2 separate regions of the Homo sapiens genome follow, and region 1 is linked to region 2. The links come from fine-mapping of genetic effects on gene expression. A gene starts in region 2. The other region holds a variant in brackets. All regions are shown on one strand. Distances are from middle to middle.

Region 1 (11,166 bases), 220 kb before region 2:
GCCCCTGAGCCTGCTGCTGCCACGGGCCCTGTCTCTACCCAGGACGTCCCCCCACCCTCGCTGTGTCAGGGAAATGATCATGGTGGCGGTGACACTCCGCAGGCAGGGCTGCTGAGAGAAGCTGAGAAGGGTCACACTGCAGGCAGAGGCCCGTGTGACAAGCCCCTCTCACCCCGAGAGAGCTGACCAGGCAGCTCACGAGCAGAGCCACATCCCGGGAGTCCGAGAAAGGTCCTGGCTGGGCTCAGCCACCTCATTGGCCACGGGCAGCCTTTGTCGTGTGAGCCTTGCTCTCCTGGGGAGGCTCAGGCTGACGGCTGATGTGGGCATTGCCGAGGGTAACCTGTGGCCCAGTGTATATGGCCGGGTCTCCTCAAGCTGCATTCATTCAAGTAGGACCCAGGGTGCGTGCCCATCTCCAGCCCAGGGCAGCTCCCCTGTAAGCTGGGTGAGCTACTGAAGCCAAGGCAGGAGGCAGCTGACAACACCCACGGCCCATGCAGAGGTGGTGGAAAGGCTGGAGTCAGCAGCAACACCAAATCCCGGACCAGGCAGAAACCACCCAAGACTGAGGGGCTCGTGCCAGAGCGGTGGCCACAGGTAAGAACCCGGGCCCAGGCTGTGTGGCAGGAATCCTCCATGTCCCAGGGCTTAGCATAGCAAAGGAAGACCAGCCGGGTCACCCTGGTGGCCATCTGTCCCTGTCCCACCTGCAGAGTCAGAACAGCCTCTCCCCAGTGGGGATCATCTCTCTCTGCCAAAGCAACAGCGGTCCCTGCCCCAACCAGACTACCCCACTCAGTGGAGTTACGGATGCTGCTCCAGCATCCTAACACTGCCCAGCTGGTGCCTGCCTGTGCTCACCCGCACCCCCCAGGCCGGCCTTCCCTGCAGCCTGGGCTTGGCCACCTTGGCCTGATTGAGCACTGAGGCCTCCTGGGCACCCAGCCCCATCACTGCACCTGCTGCTTCCAGCCCCACCCCACAAGCTCAGGGGTTCTTCCCAGCGGCGCTGATCATGAAGTCAACATGCACGCAAGTCGTCTCAGGAAACTTTTTAATGAAAGTGTTGGCCACGGTGGTGTGTAGGTGGCTGAGCTCAGATTGCAGCTGCTGAGACACCAGCCACTTACCAAGAGAAAGCCAGGCTGCTTCAAACCCAGGGCCCGCGGCAAAAAAGCATCACTTCCGGCCGGGGAGTCTGGAAGCCACGCCTTGTGGGAGGTCACACTGGCATCTAGGCCTTCGCCTGCACTGCAGAAGGAGAGCCGGGTCCCCCTCCTGGAGAACGCTGCGTTCCCCAGCCCCACACCGGCTTTGCCACCACACAGGCTGTTGAGGCAGGAGGCGGGTAAGACGTAGCTGTAGACCCAAAGCAACCACCAGCCCTGGGACCCTGCGGGAGAGAAGCACTTTTAGAACATGGAAAAGTGTGGTCATCCCATCATTAGACAGCACACATCCTACATAAATAAAAAGTCGTATGGGGAAGGAGGTTGGGGAGGGAATAAAAAACTGGCACAGACATTGATAGACTGGTTTCCAGTTTCAAGGTAACAGATGCACATCATGAGACCAGAGGAGGCAGAGACAAGGGCTGGATTTGGCTTTTCTAAGCAACATGTGTTCCTGCGCAGGGCTGAATGGTCACTGAGACAGAGATGGAAGCCAGGACAGGGGAGCCCACTGGGCCCAGATAGGTACAGAGAGCAGAGGCTCCTGTTCTGTCCTCACCACCCATGAGGGTGACACTGCTTGTAAATGGTGGCTGTGCTCTCCCAGCAAGAAAAAAGCACAACTAAATCCACACTGCACAAAGACGCAGACAGAAAGCCTTCAAGTGGCTCTGTTTTCTGCTCCCTGCCTCATCAGGTCCACAAGCAGAGAGGAGTGTCAGGTACATATCCCTGCTGTCAGGCTCCCCAGTAAGCTGCGGGCTCAGCAGGAGCTGCCCACTGACACACAGGGGACACCCACTCCTGCCACCTTGGGAGCGGTTGCCAGACAGAGCCGTACTGGGTGCTGGTGTCATCCAGGGACCCCACACACTTCCTTAAATGTGATCCTGCTTCCCTCTGCGCAGCTGCATCCTCTCCTCCTGCAGGACCGTCTGGAAACTTGGCTCTCAGTTTGCTCTCCCTTCTCTCCTCTGCCTGCCCCAAGCCCCTCTTTCTAAAAAAGTGATGCCACGTTCATGGGATTATTTCTTGAAAATACTTGGCGGCCTCCATGCTTCTGTTTTCTTTGAGTCAGGTAGTCAGGAGGGTTTACAAACAATGCCTGGGCTCCCCCGCAGGTGCCGGCAGATGGGGTAGCGAATGGTCCTGTGCCTCCACCTGCTCCGGGAGGGAGTCTCCCGTCTCTAGGCCTGGCCCCTTCCTAACCCTCCACGTATCCTGTTCTCCAGAGACTTCAGAACCCACTCCTGAGAACAGCGGAGCCAGGCGCTTAGAGGAAGACCAAATGCTGCCAGGACACGGATTGTCCAGGGATTACATTCCAGCATCTTATTAGGTATCTGGATCTGTTGGGGAAAAAATTAGAAACTATGTATAAAACTTACAAATATTCAAGTATCAAAAGGTTATTTAGGATGAAAGTTTTAAAACAAGTCATCAGCAAGCTGCTACCACCAAGTGGAGACTTATACAAAAGTTGAGCGAGTCCACTGAGCTGAGAGGACAGAAATGAAGTCACCTGTGCTGGGGCAGGGGCAGGGACACTGGGGGCAGGGAGTGTGTGGGCAGAGAAGCCAGAGAAGTCCAGGCCTGTGGAAGCCAAACAGGAGAGCGTGGGCCGGAAGGGCGGTCAGGATCGGGGGACGAGGTCGCTCTCCCTGGAGAACGAACCCTAAGGTGCGTAGCCTGGGATTCCCTCCCTGGAGGTCCTGTCCCCCGACATTTCACAGGCCTTCTGAGCTGCTTTCCAAGGAGGACTAACACGGCAACAAAAGAACCATTTCTGCACAAAAATCCTGGAAAGAAAAAGAAGCAAGCCGAGAATGGAGTCAAAACGCTACCCAGTGCTGACTAAGCCTCTCAAACCCTGTTCTAAGTGGACTGTGGTTTCTAAGTCAGGGAAATGGAAGAGGCCCCACCCACACAGGGACAGGGCCACGGCCCCCACAGGATGAAGCAGCAGCGTTTATTCAAGATACAACAGTGAGGGAATCCGGTCACGTTCCCTTCTCCCCAGAGAGGGCGCATCTTGACAAGTGATCGAGTAGAAATCTTTTAAACTCTAAGTTAAGTTCATAAAAACCACTGGTTTCACTCTGTCTCCCAGGGCCAGGCCTGGCCTCTGAGATGCACTGGCTTGGGGCGCCCTCAGGTGGCTGCATGGAAAACCCACAGTCTGAGGCCAGCCTGGGGCTTTCAGACCTGGGCGGGATCTGCCCAGGCCACCTGTCCTTCTGCTTTGGGCCGCTGTCTCTTGGCAGATGGCCTGACACCTGGGGGTGGCCCAAGGATGCCTCAGAAAATCTTGATTCCCACTCTACAGATAGCCTGATTAGCCAGAGGTTTCCAGGCCATCTGTCCGCCTCCAGGAGATGGACTGGGACCTTTAGACATCGGTGGAGAACAGGATGCTCTGTCCCTTGCTGTCCGGGGCAGGGACGGCCTCCAGCCGCAAGAAGTACAGCAGCACCTCGACCTGCCCTCGCGGAGTGGGGAAGAGGAGAGTGGCTCAGAGGGGGGCTCACAGCTGCTGGTGGGGAGGTCTTTGGGGCCCAAGTCCCCAAGTCCACCTCAGGTGCTAGAAACCCCTGCTGGTGTCATGAACCCCTTACAGTGAGACGGGGGTGGGGTGGGGTCCTGACAAGGCATGACTTGTTGGGTGGGGGGTGGTTATTTATTTTAGAGATGCACAGGGCCTTGCTCTGTCCCCCAGGCTGGAGTACAGTGGCTCCATCATGGATCACTGCAGCCTCTAACTCCTGGGCTCAAGCAATCCTCCTGTGTCAGCCTCCCAGATACCTAGGATTACAGATGTGTGCCACAATGCCTGCCTAATTTTTCTTTGTATTTTTTCTAGAGATGGGGTTTGCTACATTTCCCAGACTGGTCTCAAACACCTGGGTTCAGTTGTCCTGCCTCGGCCTCCCAAAGTGCTGGGATTACAGGCATGAGCCACCACACCTGAACACTTGGGGTGGTTTTAAGCCCCCAGCAAGGTGCACCAGCAGGAGCAGGAGGTGGCCTAGGCTCCCCCTATCACTCCCATCCATGCAAACCTAGGCAAGTCCCTGTCTCTGAATCTCAGCCACCACCACATACAATGCAAGTTGGAAGATGGGCAGGACTGGGGGTGGGGCAGGCAGAGGCCACCTCTGTCAGGCTGGGGTTGCATGGGCTGGAGCCTGTCTTCCCACACCTGGGACATGACCTCCAAGGACCAGCTGTCAGTCATGGTGATGGGCTGGCCGGGGTTGGCAGGGAGCTTGCTCTCCTTCTCGGAGGGCCGGAGCAGCATGGGGCCAAAGACAGTGGCAAGGTTGTGCAGGGACATCTTATTGACTGCCTCCTTCTCTGCCACCCTGTAGAGGACCAAAGCAGAAGGTGCTGTTTCAACGCCACCACCAGGAGAGAGGCAGAGGGGCTGTGCCGTGCTAGAGTCCTCAGGGAGAGAGTGACCTCGACCCTGGCTATGAGCCAATGCGCCCGGCCTCTCACTCTTCTTTATTCAGCATAATTTATTCTGACGTATCTTCAGTGTAGGTATTCTCTTTTTATTCTCCTATTCCTGTTAAACCCATTGGGCTGAATGCTGTTTATTTCTAGAATGTCTACACCTGTTTTTCTGCAAGGTCATTTTTTTTTCTCGTTTGCTGTTCGTCACATATACTTTCAAGCTCATCGGTTCCCTCCGTGAGTACAGGTAAGTGGAGGAGCCTCATGGTCTGCCTCAGGTCTTTGAGATGTTGAGTCTCTGGATCTGGTCCTGCTGCTGGCCTTTTCTGTCCTTGCTCATGGGGCATTGTTTCCGTGAATGTGTGGTTACTTTTGACTGCATTACTCATTGTCCTGGAAAAATGACTTTGTGGGAATTTTTCAGACCTAGGGTAAAGATGCTTCCTCCAAACTAGGTTTACGCTTCCTTCTGCCAGGTACCTCAGGGCGCTGTCAGCCTAAAGCCAATTTAAACTAAATCCATCAACTGTGAGGTTTTGGAATCTTCTCACTGGTGTGAATTTGGGCCATAAGTCCCAAATTCTGTGGGGTGCTCTGTGGGGTGGGGACCAGCCTTAGAGTTCTCATCGGAAGCCCGGGGTGGCTGGATGGGGGCAGATGTTTTCAGGGCAAGAGCGGCTTGGCTCGCCTCTCTGGTTTCTGGTTTCCCCAGATGGTGCCTGGCGGCTCCTCACTGTCTTGTCAGCCCCTGGATGCCTTTAAGAAAACATCCTTTTATTTTGTCAGCATTTTTGGTACTTCTCAGTGTGAGGGCTGGTCCAAGTATTTGGCTTATCATAGTTTTACAAAAAGTTGGTTTCTATGAAATCTTAAGTCACCTCTTTTTTAAAAATGTACCTTTTAGTCCGGGCACGGTGGCTCACTCCTGTAATCCCAGCACTTTGGGAAGCCGGGGCAGGCAGATCACTTGAGGCCAGGAATTTGAGACCAGCCTGGACAACATGGTGAAACCC[T/C]GTCTCTACTAAAACTACAAAAATCAGTCGGGTGTAGGGCCAGGCGCAGGGGCTCACGCCTGTAATCCCAGCACTTTGGGAGGCCAAAGCAGGTGGATCACCTCAGGTTGGGAGTTCAAGACCAGCCTGACCAACATGGAGAAACCCCGTCTCTACTAAAAGTACAAAATTAGCTGGGCGTGGTGGCGCATGCTTGTAATCCCAGCTGCTCATGAGGCTGAGACAGGAGAATCACTTGAACCCGGGAGGTGGAGGTTGTGGTGAGCCAAGATCATGCGATTCCCCCTGCCTCAGCCTCCCAAGTAGGTGGGACTACAGGCAAGCACCACCATACCCGGCTAACTTTTTTTTGGTATTTTTAGTAGAGACAGGATTTTACCATCTTGGCCAAGCTGGTCTTGAACTCCTCACCTCGTGATCCACCCACCTCGGCCTCCCAAAGTGCTGGATTACAGGCGTGAGCTACCGCGCCCAGACTAAAAGCGCGCCCGGCCGTCTACTACTTCTTATAGGGTGAGAGGCGGGAGGATCGCTTGAGCCCTGAAGTTTGCGGCTGCTGCAGTTGGCTTTGATCGTACCACTGCACTCCAGCCAGGGTGACAGCAGGACCCTGACTCTAAAAAAAGAAAAAGAAAAAAAAGCATATACTATTAATACTTCCTCCTTACTATAATATTTACCGTGGCCTTTATCAGACTAGAGAGTGCTTTTATCTCTCCCTTTTGTAAGAAAGAGCTTTTAGAATTATCAATAGATGGTCAGGTGAGGTGGCTCAGGCCTGTAATTCCAGCACTTTGGGAGGCCGAGGTGGGTGGATCACGAGGTCAGGAGTTCAAAACCAGCTTGGCCAAGATGGTGAAACCCTGTCTCTACTAAAAATACAAAAAAATTAGCTGGGTGTGGTGGCGAGTGCCTGTAATGCCAGCTACTCCGGAGGCTGGGGCAGAGAATTGCTTGAACCCAGTAGGCGGAGGTTGCAGTGAGCCAAGATTGTGCCACTGCACTCCAGCCTGGGCAACAGAGTGAGACTCTGTCTCAGAAAAAAAAAAAAAATTATTAATAGATGGTGACCCTCATCTTCACGTTTTCTGCATCTATTGAAGTGCGCCACTGAGATCGTGGAGTTCTTCCCTGTTTGTCCATATGATGAACAACACTGATTTTCTGATGTTGAACAATCCCTGGAATAAACTCTGTTTGGTTTCCATGGATTTCTGTTTCCCTTTAGATTTTGTTAGTAATTTATTTTGGATTTTTGCATCCAAGTTCATAATTGTAACTGGACAAATAAAGGCAGATTTTAAAAGGACAAGTTGGGAGGCTAAGGCGGAAGGATCACTTGAGCCTGGGAGATTGAAGCTGCAGCTAGCTTCGATTGTTCCACTGTACTCCAGCCTGGTGACAGCAGGACCTGCCTCTAAAATAATAATACTTAAAAGGACGAGTTTACCTACAGTCTCACCAAGCAATGAAAGAGCTTATCTTCTTCCTGTTTCCTTTACGGATCTTGCTCATGTATTTTATCTTAGTTACTTTAGCATAAATGCTAAATCAAATTCTTTTTCACTAGACATCATAATAGCTCTAGGCATACCACATAATACCCAAGCACATTTTAATCATTAAAATTGTTTCCTTTTTTTGTGGCTACTGTAACCACTTCAGCGAACCATTTAGTGTGTAGTGGGTTTAAATTTTTTCTCCTTCCTGGGATAAATTTCCCAGGAGAGGGATAATTGGGTCAAAAGTTACGAACATATTTATGGGTTCTTTTCCACAAGAGATCGATCAGTTTGCAAGTGCCATCTGCACTGTGGGGGAACCAATCTTCAACTTGCCTGCATTTGGTATTAGTATTTCATTAACCTTTCATTGATCTAATTACGGCTCTTTGACACAATTTTCATCAGTGATGGACTAAGTGTGATCCGGCCTGACCCGCCTCCGGCCGGCGTGAGAAGGGGCATGTGTCGGGCTACCCTCGGGCTTCCCCTGCCGCCCATTGTGATCCAGCCCGCTAGGCGCTCCCTGCCGCCCATTGTGACGCCTGCCAGCCGCAGGCTGGGTCCCCGAGGCGGGCGGCATTTAGGCTCGGTCTCCACAGCCATGGCCGCGACGCAGGAGCTGCTGCTGCAGTTGCAGAAGGATAACCGAGATGGTCGCCAGCGGAAGCAGGAGCTAGAGAAGCTGATGCGCGGGCTCGAGGCCGAGAGCGAGAGCCTGCCTCAACCAGCGCCTGCAGGACCTGAGCGAGCGGGAGCGGAGGTGCGCGGGGAACGCCCCTCTACCTGGCGGGCGCGCGAGGGTCGGTCCCGCAGGCAGCGCCGCGAGGTGCTTCGCAGAGTACCAGGCTGATCCGCCCGGGCCCGCATCTCTGCTCTAGGCCCTTGGGAACGGGTGATCCACCCAGCGGACCCAGGTGGGGGACTCGGCCAGGACTTCCCAGTCCTCAATCATGAGCCTGCGGCTGGTCCTTCCTGGCGACTGCGGGATCCTGAGCGACCCAGTCCGCCTTGTAGCGCCAACCTCAGTTTCCCTCTGCAGGCTGCTGCGGAGGCGAAGCCAGGAAGCGCTGCTTCTGCAAGGGGAGGTGCGCGAGGCGGCGCGGGAGCGCGCGCAGCGGGTGCGCAGAAGACTGGAGGAGGCGGAGCGCCACAAGGAGGACTTGGTGAGGAAGAGTCCTGGAATGGGGCTGGACCCAGGGTGGGGTGGGGCAGGGCGGGCGGAAGGGGGCAGGATCCGGGGGTGGGGTGAGGTAGGACCGGCGGTGAGGCCGGCACCGCCCCAGGACCCTGTCCGCAGGAGCAGCACAGCAGGCAGCTGCAGGGCAGTGGGAGGAGCTGTCGAGTCAGGTACGTGCAGGAGATGGGAGGGCCTGTCTCTTGGTTCCTCTCGGAAGTCCTGCCCTTGCCCTCGCTCTCATTGCCTCCCCGTCCCTGTCTCCCCTGACACTCGTTCCTCCAGAAGCCCGGTAAACCCCGTCCTTACGAGCCCCGCCCCTAGCTCTTCTACTACGGAGGGGAACTGCAGAGCCAGAAGAGCACGGAGCAGCAACTCGCAGCCCAATTGGTGACGCTGCAGGTGCTTGAGCGGGACCCTGAGGTCTTTAGTAGGGGCGGAGCAGCAGCGTGAGCGGGGCCGTGACCACCTGGGGGTGTGGCTTAAGGCAGGCCCTGAAGGCGTGGGCGGGGCGGGGATGTGGGCGGGGCATAATCGCCTGGGGGCGGGGCCCTGAGGGCTAGATACGGGCGGAGCGCGGAGGGGGCGGGGCCATGACCAGCTGGGGCGTTGCTTACGACTGGTCCTGAGGACGTGGGCGGGGTCATGATCGCCTGGGGGCGGGCACTGAGGGCCGGGGGCGGGGCCCGGAGGCGCAGCGGGTTGCCGGCCTGCGGACCTCCTGACATTCCCTGGGTCCTTCTCAAGAATGAACTGGAGCTGGCGGAGACCAAATGCGCCTTGCAGGAGGAGAAGCTGCAGCAGGTGAGGGCAGAAGCGGGTTCTGTTGGAGGAGGGTAGGCTTTCGAGTGTGGATGGGGAAGGGCCTGTCGCCCCGCCCCCGCCGAGTCTAACCCGGGTGTCCACACCCAGGACGCGCTGCAGACAGCGGAGGCCTGGGCCATATTCCAGGAGCAGACCGTAGTCCTGCAGGTGCGGCCCCACTCAGACGCCAAGGTGCCTCCCGCCTCTCCTCCCCCAGACCTGGGGCGGTAAGTCTCCCAACCCACCGCCAGGACGCCTCCCCGAGGCCTCAGTCCGCACTCTCACCCGCTCCAGGAGGTGCAGGTGAAGGTGATGGAGGCTGCGGAGGAGCTGGACGCCTGGCAGAGTGGCCGGGAACTGTAAGGGAGTTGGGCTTGCGGGCGCGGCGGGGCACTGTGGGGCCGGGCCGGGCTGGGCTCCCACCTGCATGCCTGTCCCCGCAGGTGTGACGGGCAGCTTCGCAGAGTGCAGTACAGCACCGAGTCGCTCATGGAGGAGATGGCCAGGGCGGACCGAGTGAGCGCCTGCGCGGGTCCGGGCGGGGTGGGCTGGAGCGGGACACCCCTCCCCATCCCCCCCGCGGTACCGCCTCCCCCTCCTCCTGGAAACCGGGCCGGCGCCGCGGGCGCGGAGGTAGCTGGATGCGGCCCTCTCTCCCCGCAGGAGACGCGGCTGTTCGGCGGTCCTCGCGCGCTGGCCATCAGGTGAGCAGGGCGGTGGGCGCGGCCGCGGTCCCCCACGTGCCCGCCCGAGCCGCCGCCCACCTGCCCGCCTTTCGCCCTGCAGGCGCTGCTGACGCTGCCGCTCCTCTTCCTGGGGCTGTCGCTGCTCTGGACGGTGCTGTTGGACCCCGGCGCCGTCTCCGCGTGGCTCTGGAGCCTCACCTCGGAGACGACGCTGCGCCGCCTGCGCTACACGCTGTCCCCGCTGCTGGAGCTGCGCGCTAACGGGCTGCTGCCAACCTAAGTGCAGCGCCCCGCGCCTGGCTCCAGGTGGACTCCAGGGCACCGGCTTTATTTCTGGTGCACTCCTCTCCTGAGAGTGTAGACCAAGGTCGCCTAATAAACTCCTCAAGGGATGAAGCTCGTGGGTTCGTCGTCTGTCTCCCATGTCATGTAGGAGCTTGACTGGCTTTTCAGCCTCCAAAGATTCCTTCCTTTCTTACAGCTCATGGATTTAGATCCACTCCCCAGTATTGTAAACAGCATTTTTAGTTTTTCAGGATACATAATTTGCCATATTGCCAGAAACTTGTACATAGCATTTGACACTTTTTTCTTTGCCAATTTGACAAGCTGCTTTTTTCAAGTATTGTGATTTGAAATTATTTCTACTATATTTGAATTTATTTCTACCATTTGTAACATGTTGATCCTGATTTTTCAATGCTCCCCTTTCCTTCTGTTTGATTATTTGGGAAGTCACACTCTGTATTCTGGTATTCTTACTACTTGAGCTCAGCTCATTGCTGTCATCTTCCCCTAAACCGCCTTAAAGCATCTTAGGTCTTTTCCCTCTGATCACATGTGCTACTTTTTTTTTTTTTCTTTTCTTTTGAGATGGAGTCTTGCTCTGCGCCCAGGCTGGAGTGCAGTGGCATGATCTCGGCTCACTGCAAGCTCTGCCTCCCGGGTTCCAGCGATTCTCCTGCCTCAGCCTCCCAAGTAGCTGGGACTTCAGGCGCCTGCCATCATGCCCGTTTAATTTTTTGTATTTTTAGTAGAGACAGAGTTTCACTGTGTTAGCCAGGATGGTCTCGATCTCCTGACCTCGTGATCCGCCCACCTTGGCCTCCCCAAAGTGCTGGGATTACAGGCATGAGCCACCGTGCCTGGCCAACATTTTCTCCAGATATCTTACCGAGTCCTAATTTCCACTGCGGACAGAGAATACACTCTGCGTGATTTTAATTCTATCTCATTTACTGAGACTTGTTTTGTGGCCCAGCACAAAGCTTGTAATGAACATTGAGAAGAAAGTGTATTGTTGCTGTTGACAGAGTGATTTTTTTTTTGAGACGGAGTCTCGCTCTGTCGCCA
Region 2 (11,166 bases):
ACCTGAGGTCGGGAGTTCGAGACCAGCCTGGCCAACAGGGTGAAACGCTGTCTCTACTACAAATGCAAAAATTAGCCAGACGTGTTGGCACACACCTGTCATTCCAGCTGCTCGGGAAGCTGAGGCATGAGAGTCGCTTGAGCCTGGGAGGCAGAGGTTGCACTGAGCCAAGATCATGCCACTGCACTCCAGCCTGGGTGACAGAGTGAGACTCTGTCTCAAAAATAAATAAATAGGCCGGGTGTGGTGGCTCACACCTGTAATCCCAGCACTTTGGGAGGCCGAGGCAGGCGGATCACCTGAGGTCAGGAGTTCAAGACCAGCCTGCCCAACATGGTGAAACCCAGTGTCTACAAAAATACAAAAATTAGCCATGCATGTTGGCGCGCGCCTGTAATCCCAGCTACTCAGGAGGCTGAGGCAGGAAAATCACTTGAACCCAGGAGGCAGAGGTTGCAGTGAGCCGAGATCATGCCATTGCACTCTAGCCTGGGCGACAGAGCGAGACTCCATCTCAAAAAAACAAACAAACAATAACAAAATAAATAAATAAAAGACTTGAACTCAGACCAGACGTGATGACCAGCTGAATTTAAGCATATTAGTCAGCAGAGGAAAAGAAACTAACCAGGATTCCCTCAGTAATGGCAAGTGAACAGGTAAGAGCCCAGCACCAAATGCCTGCCTTGCAGAGTTTTTACATATATATGTGTGTGTGTGTGTGTGCATTATATATATACGTATTCTTTTTAAGTTGAGAAAACAATAATTCAGTATAACCCAAAGTGGAATCTGCTAAAATGGGTAACAAGTGATGGTGGTAATCATGTATGAAGCAGAAAAAGGCTTAGTTGAGCAAATTTATAAAGCCCTGGAAAATATAAGGTGTTTAGAGCCTATGGTTATTTATGACATTATTCATCTGAAACTAATCCATGATAAAAATATATATATATTTTTGAGACAGAGTCTCTCTCAGTCACCCAGGCTGGCGTGCAGTGGCGCAATCTCAGTTCACTGCAACCTCTGCCTCCCAGGTTCAAGTGATTCTCCTGCCTCAGCCCCCTGAGTAGCTGGGACTACAGGCGCACGCCACCATGCCTCGCTAATTTTTCTATTTTTAGTAGAGATGGGGTTTCACCACGCTGGTCTCAAACTCCTGACCTCAGGTGAGCTGCCTGCCTTGGCCTCCCAAAGTGCTGGGATTACAGGTGTGAGCCACCACACCCAGCCCTTTTTTTTTTTTTTTTTGAGACACAGTCTCACTGTGTCACCCAGGCTAGAATACAGTGGCATGATCTGGGGCTCACTGCAGCTTCAACCTCCTAGGCTCAAGCACTCCTCCTGACTCAGACTTCCAAAGTGTTGTGTTTACAGGCATGAGCCACCACACGTGGCAACTGTAGCTATTATTTTTTGATACGGAGTCTCACTCTGTCACCAAGGCTGGAGTGCATTGGTGCGATCTCGGCTCACTGCAACCTCCACCTCCTGGGCTCAAGCGATTCTCCTGCCTCAGCCTTCCCAGTAGCTGGGACTACAGGCATGTGCCACCATGCCTGGTCTTTAGTAGAGACGGGGTTTCACCATGTTGGCCAGGCTGGTCTTGAACTCCTGACCTCAGCTGATCTGCCTATCTCGGCCTCCCAAAGTGTTGGGATTACAGGCATGAGCCACCGCAGCTGGTCTGGCGATTGTAATTATTTTAGAAGACAAGAGTTTAAGTATAATACCATCTAGAAACCCTGGGAATATGCAAGCTAAGGAAGAATCAAAATCTATATGTTACAGCTTTTTTTTTTTTTTTTTTGAGACGGAGTCTGGCTCTATCGCCCAGGCTGGAGTGCAGTGGTGCAATCTCGGCTCACTGCAAGCTCCGCCTCCCGGGTTCACGCCATTCTCCTGCCTCAGCCTCCCGAGTAGCGGGGACTACAGGCGCCTGCCACCATGCCCGGCTAATTTTTTGTATTTTTAGTAGAGATGGGTTTTCACCATGTTAGCCAGGATAGTCTTGATCTCCTTACATCGTGATCCACCCACCTCGGCCTCCAAAAGTGCTGGGATTACAGGCATGAGCCACTGCGCCCGGCCTATTACAGCTTTTTTAATGGTTTCTTTCTGTTTCTCTACTCATTGCTGTTTTGCTATCTCAGCATTTAGTAACTTTTTTTGGAATGTTTTTGACAGGGTCTTGCTCTGTTGCCTAGGCTGAGGTGCAGTGGCACAATCAAGGCTTACTGCAGCCTCGACCTCCTGGGCTCAGATGATCCCCCAACCTCAGCCTCCTGAGTAGCTGGGACTTGAACACCTGGGCTCAAGTGATCTACCCACCTTGGCCTCCCAAAGTGCTGGGATTACAGGCATGAGCCAACATGCCCAGCCTGGAAAGTTTATTTTATGCTTGTCTCAACTGTGCTAAGGAAAAATAAAGGAAAGTATCTTTTACAAAAATTTTATTATGACAAATTCCAAACATACATAAAAGTATTATAGAATATAATTAACCCTACCCTCGCATCATGTCACCTGGTTTCAATAATTATCAATCTCACATGGCCATTCTTGTTTCACTTTTATCTAACCCACACCTTATTCCCCTCTGGAGTATTTAGAAGCAAAATGAGAGATATTTGGTTCTTTTTTTTTTTTTTTTTTTGAGATGGTGTCTCACTCTGTCTCCCAGGCTGGAGGGTAGTGGCACAATCTTGGCTCACTGCAACCTCCGCCTCCCAGGTTCAAGCTATTCTCCTGTCTCAGCCTCCTAAGTAGCTGGGACTACAGGTGAGCGCCACCATGCTCAGCTAATTTTGGTATTTTTAGTAGAGACAGGGTTTCACTATGTTGGCCAGACTGGTCTTGAACTCCTCACCTCAAGTGATCTGCCCACCTCAGCCTTGCAAAGTGCTGGGATTACAGGTGTGAACCACTGTGCCCGGACTTTACTTTTTTCTAAAAAGAGAGTTTATTTAAGGAAAATAGAGAGCAGAGAGTTTATTTTTACAATGTTTTTACATTGACTGGGTGCCGTGGCTCACTCCTGTAATCCCAGCACTTTGGGAGGCCAAGGTGGGCGGGTTGCGAGGTCAGGAGTTCAAGACCAGCCTGGCCAATATGTTGAAACCTGGTCTCTACTAAAAAATACAAAAATTAGCCAGGTGTTGTGGCATGCGCCTGTAGTCCCAGCTACTCAGGAGGCTGAGGCAGGAAGAATCACTTGAACCAGGGAGGCGGAGGTTGCAGTGAGCCGAGATCACGCCACTGCACTCTAGCCTGAGCAACAGAGTGAGACTCTGTCTCGAAAAAAAGAATGTTTTTACTTTTTTTAAAATAGAGATGGGGTTTTGCAATGTTGTCCAGGCTGGTCTCTAACTCCTGGCCTCAAAGGATCCACCTGCTTCACCTTCCCAAAATGCTGGGATTACAGGTGTGAGCCACTGCACCTGGCCAAGAGCAGATAGTTTATATAGACAGATAGTACACCCTGAAAAGATGAGGCAAAGAGGGCTGAGGCAAAGAGGGCTGCTGAAAAGGGAGTGAGCCAGCAGCTAATGTTCAATTATCATTTTTCTCTGGCTTCCTCCCATCTTTATCCATCTACATTCAAAAACCATACATTAAGTATGTATCGGCTGGGCGTGGTGGCTCACACCTGTAATCCGAGCACTTTGGGAGGCCAAGGCGGGCAGATTATGAGGTCAGGAGTTCGAGACCAGCCTGGCTAACATGGTGAAACCCTATCTCTACTAAAAATACAAAAATTAGTCAGGCATGGTGGCGCGTGCCTGTAATCCCAACTACTCAGGAGGCTGAAGCAGGAGAATCACTTGAATCCAGAAGGCAGAGGTTGCAGTGAGCCGAGATTGCACCACTACACTCCAGCCTGGGCAGCAGAATGAGACCCCATCTCAAAAAAAAAAAAAAGTATGTATTATGTGCTAGGTACTGGGAATAGAAAAAATAATATATAGCAGGCTGCCCTCAAGATGCTCAGATTGGGATGAGAAAAATATTTATGAACAATTACAATAGAATGTGATAAAAATTAATTTAGGCTGTGCCCACAGTGTATACATAGTAATCAGAGAGTATGGTCAGTTTTGGTTCTGCTTTTAGAATATGTGTTTGGAGTCACCAGAGATGTGACCCCTAAATGCTTCATGCTGATTATTAGCCTACTAAAGGAAAAACTATGGAGAGGTGAAGGACGCTCTGCATTTAGAGGGCAGAGAGCGGGTTGCTGTGGCTCACATCTGTAATCCTAGCTACTTTGGAGGCTGAGGCAGGAGGACTACTTGAGCCTAGGAATTTGAGACGAGAGTCAGCAACAGAGAGACATGTCTTTAAAAACAAAACAAAACCCAAAAAGCCTAATTCAGTCAAAGCATGGGTAGAAGCCAGATTAAGAAGGTTGAGCAGCTGGGTGGGTGGCTCACGTCTGTAATCCCAACACTTTGGGAGGCCAAGCTGGGAGGATTACCTGAGCCCAGCAGTTCCAGATCAGCTTGGGCAATACAGTGAGACCTCATCTCTACAAAAAATTTAAAAATTAAAAAATCACCACTAGGATTACAGGCGGTGGCTCACGCCTGTAATCCCAGCACTTTGGGAGGCTGAGGCAGGAGGATCATGAGGTCAGGAGTTCAAGACCAGCCTGGCGAACATGGTGAAACCCTGTCTCTACTAAAAATACAAAAATTAGCTGGGCATGGTGGTGCATGCCTGTAATCAATCCCACCTACTTGGCAGGCTGAGGCAGGAGAATTGCTTGAACCTGGACCTGGGAGGCAGAGGTTGCAGTGAGCTGAGATCACGCCACTGCACTCCTCCAGCCTGGGCTACAGAGCTAGAGTCCGTATCAGAATAAAAAAAAAAAAAAAGGGCTGGGCAAGGAGCAGGTGATTATGAAGTGGTAAATCTGACAGTGAAAAGTAGTTAGAAAACAAAGTGGAGATTTTTCTCTCCACCCTCACCCACCCACTGAGGGTGTATGCTCAGGGTTTTAGGGTATAGAGGTAGAGGCCCAGGGAATGACTGAATAATAATAATGGAAGACTCATATGATGCTTACTATGTGCCAGGTACTATTCTAAGCACTTTGCATATATTAACTTGTTTCATACATAGCTGGGCGGGGTGGCTCACATCTTGGCTGAGGGGGAGGATTGTTTGAGCTCAAAAGTCTGAGACGAGCCTGGGCAACATGGTGAGATTTCGTCTCTATTAAAAATCAAAGGCCGGGCGCGGTGGCTCACGCCTGTAATCCCAGCACTTTGGGAGGCCGAGGCGGGCGGATCACGAGGTCAGGAGATCGAGACCATCCCGGCTAAAACGGTGAAACCCCGTCTCTACTAAAAATACAAAAAATTAGCCGGGCGTAGTGGCGGGCGCCTGTAGTCCCAGCTACTTGGGAGGCTGAGGCAGGAGAATGGCGTGAACCCGGGAGGCGGAGCTTGCAGTGAGCCGAGATCCCGCCACTGCACTCCAGCCTGGGCGACAGAGCGAGACTCCGTCTCAAAAAAAAAAAAAAAAAAAAAAAAATCAAAAAAATTAGCTGGGCATGGCAGCGCGAGCCTGTAGTCCCAACTACTCGGAAGGCTGAGGTGGGAGGATCCCTTGAGATGGGGAAATCAAGGCTGCAGTGAGCCATGATAGTTCCACTGCACTCCAGCCTGGGTGACAGAAGGAGAACCTGTCTCAAAAACAAACAAAATAAAACAAACAGGCTGGGCACGGTGGCTCACGCCTGTAATCCTAGCACTTTGGGAAGCTGAGGCAGGCAGATCACCTGAGGTCAGGAGTTTGAGACCAGCCTGGCCAACATGGTGAAACCCCGTTTCTACTAAAAATACAAAAATTAGCAGGGCATGGCGGCGGACAGCTGTAATCCCAGCTACTCGGGAGGCTGAGGCAGGAGAATCGCTTGAACCCGGGAGGCGGAGGTTGCAGTGAGCCGAGATCGCGCCCCTGCACTCCAACCTGGTGACAGAGCGAGACTCCGTCGAAAGAAGGAAAGGAAAGGGAAAGGGAAAGGAAAGGGAAAGGGAAAGGAAAGGAAGAGAGAGAGAGAGAGAAAGAAAAGAAAAGAAAAAAGAAAAGAAAGAAAGAAAGAAAGAAAGAAAGAAAGAAAGAAAGAAAGAAAGAAAACAAACAAAAACAAATAGGGATTAATAAATAGGCAGAAGCAGGCATAATCCGGGGCAGGGGAAGCCTCGGGGCCACGCCCGAGAGGCATTTGTATTTTACTTTCAGCAGTTCAGAGCCCATGATAGCCAGGTTACCCACTTGTGGACTTCCTTGACCACTTAATTGAGTCAATCTAACCCTCACCTTCTCTCTCCTCTCACTCCATTTAGCGGGTCACGTAGCCACTAGGGCTTCCTTAGCCTATCAGGCCACCTGGGGACTGAGTCATTCAGTCAGTCACCTATCTGGTGGTCACATCTGCCCCTGGGCTCATCCTTTTACTGGGCCACCTCGGCCCATCGGGACCTGTCAGTCCTTGACCTCCCTCAGGCCCCTAGGCTGGCCAGGTCGCCTCAGTGCCACGCCTCCCTGGCCCGCGATTCAGCCTGCACGTTACGCTTTGTTCCCAGAAGCAGGTTTTCGAAACGCGGTTCCCTCTCGGCTCCAGCTGTTTTCCTGCCAGCGCTGGGAGACCCGGCAGCCGCAGCGCCCCCAGCGGCGCGCAGCGGCCCAGGAAGAGAGTGCCTACCGCCGGCGCCTCTTCAGCCTCCTCCTGGAACGCGGGAGCGGGCGCGACCAGCGCCCACCCTGATCGTCGCGACGGTGCTCCTGATTGGCTGCGCTGTGTGACGTAACGGGAGGGCCCCGGCGGCCGCCGGGAGCCGGGGCCCAGCGCGTGCGCAGACGGAGCGCGCTGAGCGGAGGGGGAGGTGGCTGCCGCTTCTCCCGCGTCCGCCATTTTGTTGCTGTGGCTATTGGGAACAAGCTGGGCAAAAGCACCCCGGAGGCGCGACGCTCCTTCGAGTTCGGTGCCTCGTGTGACGGCGGGGGTCGGTGAAGACCCGTCGAGCTGCGGCGCCGGCGCGTTCCAGGCCGGGAGTCACTGGAGGCACCCCTGGGACGCCGAGCAGCCCGAGAACCCCGGGGTGGCCTCCGCTGCGGCTCGGGTTTGCCTGCCCCGACCCCCCGGCTCTGCCGTGCATTCCCGGGCGGCTCTCTCCGTGTGGCGGCCCCGGAGCAGGCGGGCGGCGTCGGAGGATGCTGCGGGCCCGGAGCCGAGAGGAAAGTGCTGGCCCAGCCCTCTGAGCGCTCCTCGAGGTGTGCGAGAGGCCCTTCCTCGGCCCCAAAGCCGTCTGCCGGGCTAAGGCGTGCAGAGCAGGCGAGGACAGCCGCCGCCCCTACCGCCGCAGAGTCCCCGGTCCAACACCATGTCCTCCGCCAGGTTCGACTCCTCGGACCGCTCCGCCTGGTATATGGGGCCGGTGTCTCGCCAGGAGGCGCAGACCCGGCTCCAGGGCCAGCGCCACGGTATGTTCCTCGTCCGCGATTCTTCCACCTGCCCTGGGGACTATGTGCTGTCGGTGTCCGAGAACTCGCGGGTCTCCCACTACATCATCAACTCGCTGCCCAACCGCCGTTTTAAGATCGGGGACCAGGAATTTGACCATTTGCCGGCCCTGCTGGAGTTTTACAAGATCCACTACCTGGACACCACCACCCTCATCGAGCCTGCGCCCAGGTACGCGAGAGCCCTCCCCGACCGCGGAGGAAGGTCGAGAACCGGGTCTGTCGAAGAGTGCTTGTATAGGGGGGTGGGGCGCGCTTGAACCCATATTCCCCGCATTCTGAACCAAATTATTTTCCAGAAGGCCTTCCTAACAGAAAGCTAGTGTCAGGATCTGGGTCACTGGATAAGAGGATGCGTTTTTTTTTTTTCCCTCTCACGAGGCTGTTTCTCAATGTGAAGAGGATGCGTTTTGAATGTTTAACGGTGGTTGCATAGTTAAAATGCACGCTTTTTGCCTTTCGTGACTTTCTCTGGGTGTAATACTGATGCAGGGATTTGTTGGTTTTTCTAAAAACCTCTTTTTTTTTTTTTTTTTTGAGACGGAGTCTCGCTGTGTCGCCAGGCTGGAGTGCAGTGGTGCGATCTCGGCTCACTGCAACCTCCGCCTCCCGGGTTCAAGCGATTCTCCTGCCTTAGCCTCCCGAGTAGCTGGGACTACTGGCTCACGCCACCACACCCAGCTAATTTTTGTATTTTTAGTAGAGACGGTGTTTCACCATGTTGGCCTGGATGGTCTCGATCTCTTGCCCTCGTGATCCGCCTGCCTCGGTCTCCCAAAATGCTGGGATTACAGGCGTGAGCCACCACACCCGGCCAAAAACCGTTTTTAAGCCATAGACTTCTTTGAGAATCTGAAGATAGCCGAGCACTCACCACCCCACCCCCACCCCCACCCCCACCCCTCCCCGCCAAAGGCACGTACACACAAGTTTGCACACCATCCCGGGTGCTTGTACTCCCTCCAGATCTCTGAACTCCAGGTTAAGAACTCCAGGACTGCAGCCTTTGGAACAGTCAAAAAAATGAAAATGCTTTAGCGTTTAGAAACAAAAAAACCTTTAACCAAAATATCAGAACTGTATATTGATACTGTGGTGCCAAGTTTGAAGCAGGCCAGACACCACCACTTTTATAGTACGTTAATTACAAAGATAAGAGAAGGTGCATTGGCTTCAGCGAGGATATTTTTTGGAAAATTTATTGCATATTTTCTCCCCGAGGACCATTAGTAGGCCAGAGATCAGTCTGGTTAATTTCCAAGGTGGAATTAGGCTAGAATGTTATTAAGGAAAATTTTTGAATGACACTTAGTTGTATCCTAGTTCAATTTCAGACATGCTTTTTGTGTTAAGTCTAATGATTTTGTATTTCTTATTTTAAAATTAACGCAAAGTGACCAAGCATTCTCTTTTCCAAGTGAAATACGTTATTTTAATTGATTAGTTGCTTTAATTTGCCTTAAGCGTTTTAGCAGAGATTTGCTTTTATTGTTGTGTTTGCCCTGTAACACTGATTTTATCAGAGGTTTCTTTTATTTAAATTATCCCAAATTTGAGTTGAAAAGTTGCCTAGAATTTTTAAAGTAACAAACTGGCCAGTTCGTTTCTTAAACATCTATTTTAAAAGGACTGGGTGTTGATACAGTTTTTCCAGGGTTAGATGTTTATGACTTTATGGATTTGTCGACCGGGTATTACTCTAAACTTTAAACATTAAAAGCTATTATAATTGAGGACACCAACTGTTTGCATAGTGGGATAGAGATAGAAAAAAAAAAGCCATGACAGTATAATGACTACAAGATTAACTACTGAACTAAATGGACTTTAAAAGTGGGGAGAAAGTGATTATAAATCAAATACTGTATAACAAAGACCAGGACACCAAGAATCTGATTGGTGAAACCTGCGGTTCCTGGCAGATGCTGGTAGTTGCAGTCAACTTTGAGCACAATATAATTCCAATTTAAGGAGTTGAGAATCTTAGAACCCACTGTAGTGAGATTTGTAATATGACTGAATAAATTCTTCCTCTCGTTTGTGAGCGTGAATTATATAATTAATACCAGGCATTCATTAAGCCATGCATATGCTTATGTTGAGGTCATGAGTACTAATAATACAGCTGTTTCAAAAAGCAAGTTAATGGGCGGGTGTGGTAGCTCACGCCAGTAATCCCAGCACTTTGGGAAGCCAAGCCGGGCGAATCACGAGGTCAGGAGTTCAAGACCATCTTGGCCAACATGGTGAAACCCCGTCTCTGCTAAAAATACAAAAAATTAGCTGGGCGTAGTGGTGGGTGCCTGTAATCCCAGCTACTCGGGAGGCTGAGGCAGGAGAATCGCTCGAACCCGGGAGGCGGAGGTTGCAGTGAGCCGAGATCGCGCCACTGCACAGCCCGGGTGACAGAGTGAGACTCTGTCTCAAAAAAAAAAAAGGAAAAAGTTAATGACTTGAGTCTCCTTCTAGAGGAAGGAAAAGAAGTATGCCGCTTCTCTCTATCCACAGAATCGCCTCCAGATTTTCCGTACATGCATGCATCTTCTTAGAGAACAAGCATGTAATTCTGTCTTTGCCCTCTTTCGTCCTTCCTTTACTGCAGCTGTACTAGGCTGCTCACTTATTCCCTGGTAGCCATCCTTCCTTACTCATACCTTTGTACCTTTGCACCTTTGCTCCAGCTGTTGGCTCTTCACTGACTGCCTTAACTACACCTCACTCTCCATCTGTTGAAATCCTACCTGTTGTTCCAGTCCCCTCACAGATTATAGGGCCTTTCTCTGACCCTACCCCTCACGTTCAGCTTTGTTTCTCCTTCTCTGTGCCCTCTGCCTCAGGCCTGTTGCTTTAATTTAGTTTTTCATTTTCCTAGGTATCTCTGAAGGAGATCACCATGCTGGTTGAATTAGATCCTGACTGAGTTTACTTTGTTATACTGAATCTTCGAATTGCCACTCCCAAGCCTGGTTTTCATGGCTTAGGTTTAACATGTTATTAGCCTTTTATAGAAAGCTAGTGACTACTAGAGCCTGGGCCAAACGGAAAACTCAGTGTAATGCTTCTTCGCATCCCAAACAGGGTACATTTAGTGGCTTAACTTTGCAGGCATCAAAACTGAGCTTTTAAAGCCAGAGTTTCATGCCTCTTGGCTAATATTTTGGTTTATCTTGCATAGCTAAAATTTGTAACAATAATGTCCTACTCGAAATTTAAGGACTGGTGGCTTGCATTGTTATAGTCTTATCCTTTTCATTAGAATGCTTCATAATTTTTAATTTTATATTTTTATTCAAATGTTTATAAGAGAATTATAACCCAGTGTAACCCAGTGTAGGTACTGGGAAAGATGTGTGACAGACATACTTTCTTCCTGTGGAACTCCTACTGTAGTGGAGAAGACAGACTGAAAAGTAGAAAAATAAAGTACTAGTAAGATCAATATACAGGAGGGACCTACCTGGGGTGGCGTGGTCAGAGAAAGCATGAAGCTAAGACCTGAGGGTAAAGAAGAACCCAGCCTAGGCAAGGCTTGGCCTGAGAGGAGGAGAAGAGCCTTCCAAGTTTAGGGAAAAGCTTATGTAGATGTCCTGAGGTGAGAAAGTCCATTGTGTTGGGAGTGTGTTTCTTTTCTTTCTT

Evidence for each region. PIP is the estimated chance that this variant, and not a neighbour inherited with it, causes the effect.
Region 1: its variant is fine-mapped to the expression of CRKL in whole blood (TOPMed, PIP above 0.99).

What each region holds. Positions count from the first base shown.
Region 1 is chr22:20,694,398-20,705,563 of GRCh38, forward strand. LOC107985584 (a long non-coding RNA gene) reads left to right here and starts at 1,139. Exons shown (of 2, transcript XR_007068010.1): 1 at 1,139-1,351; 2 at 2,408-2,532. It also overlaps the pseudogene BCRP5 and the pseudogene TMEM191A. RefSeq lists enhancers at 2,335-2,951, 8,622-8,731, 8,830-9,402 and silencers at 8,322-8,391, 9,122-9,271. The variant T/C (reference allele first, on the strand shown) is at 5,645.
Region 2 is chr22:20,910,544-20,921,709 of GRCh38, forward strand. It overlaps CRKL (CRK like proto-oncogene, adaptor protein), which reads left to right and starts at 6,864. Exons shown (of 3, transcript NM_005207.4): 1 at 6,864-7,702. The coding sequence starts at 7,392. RefSeq lists a silencer at 6,781-7,230 and an enhancer at 7,521-7,580.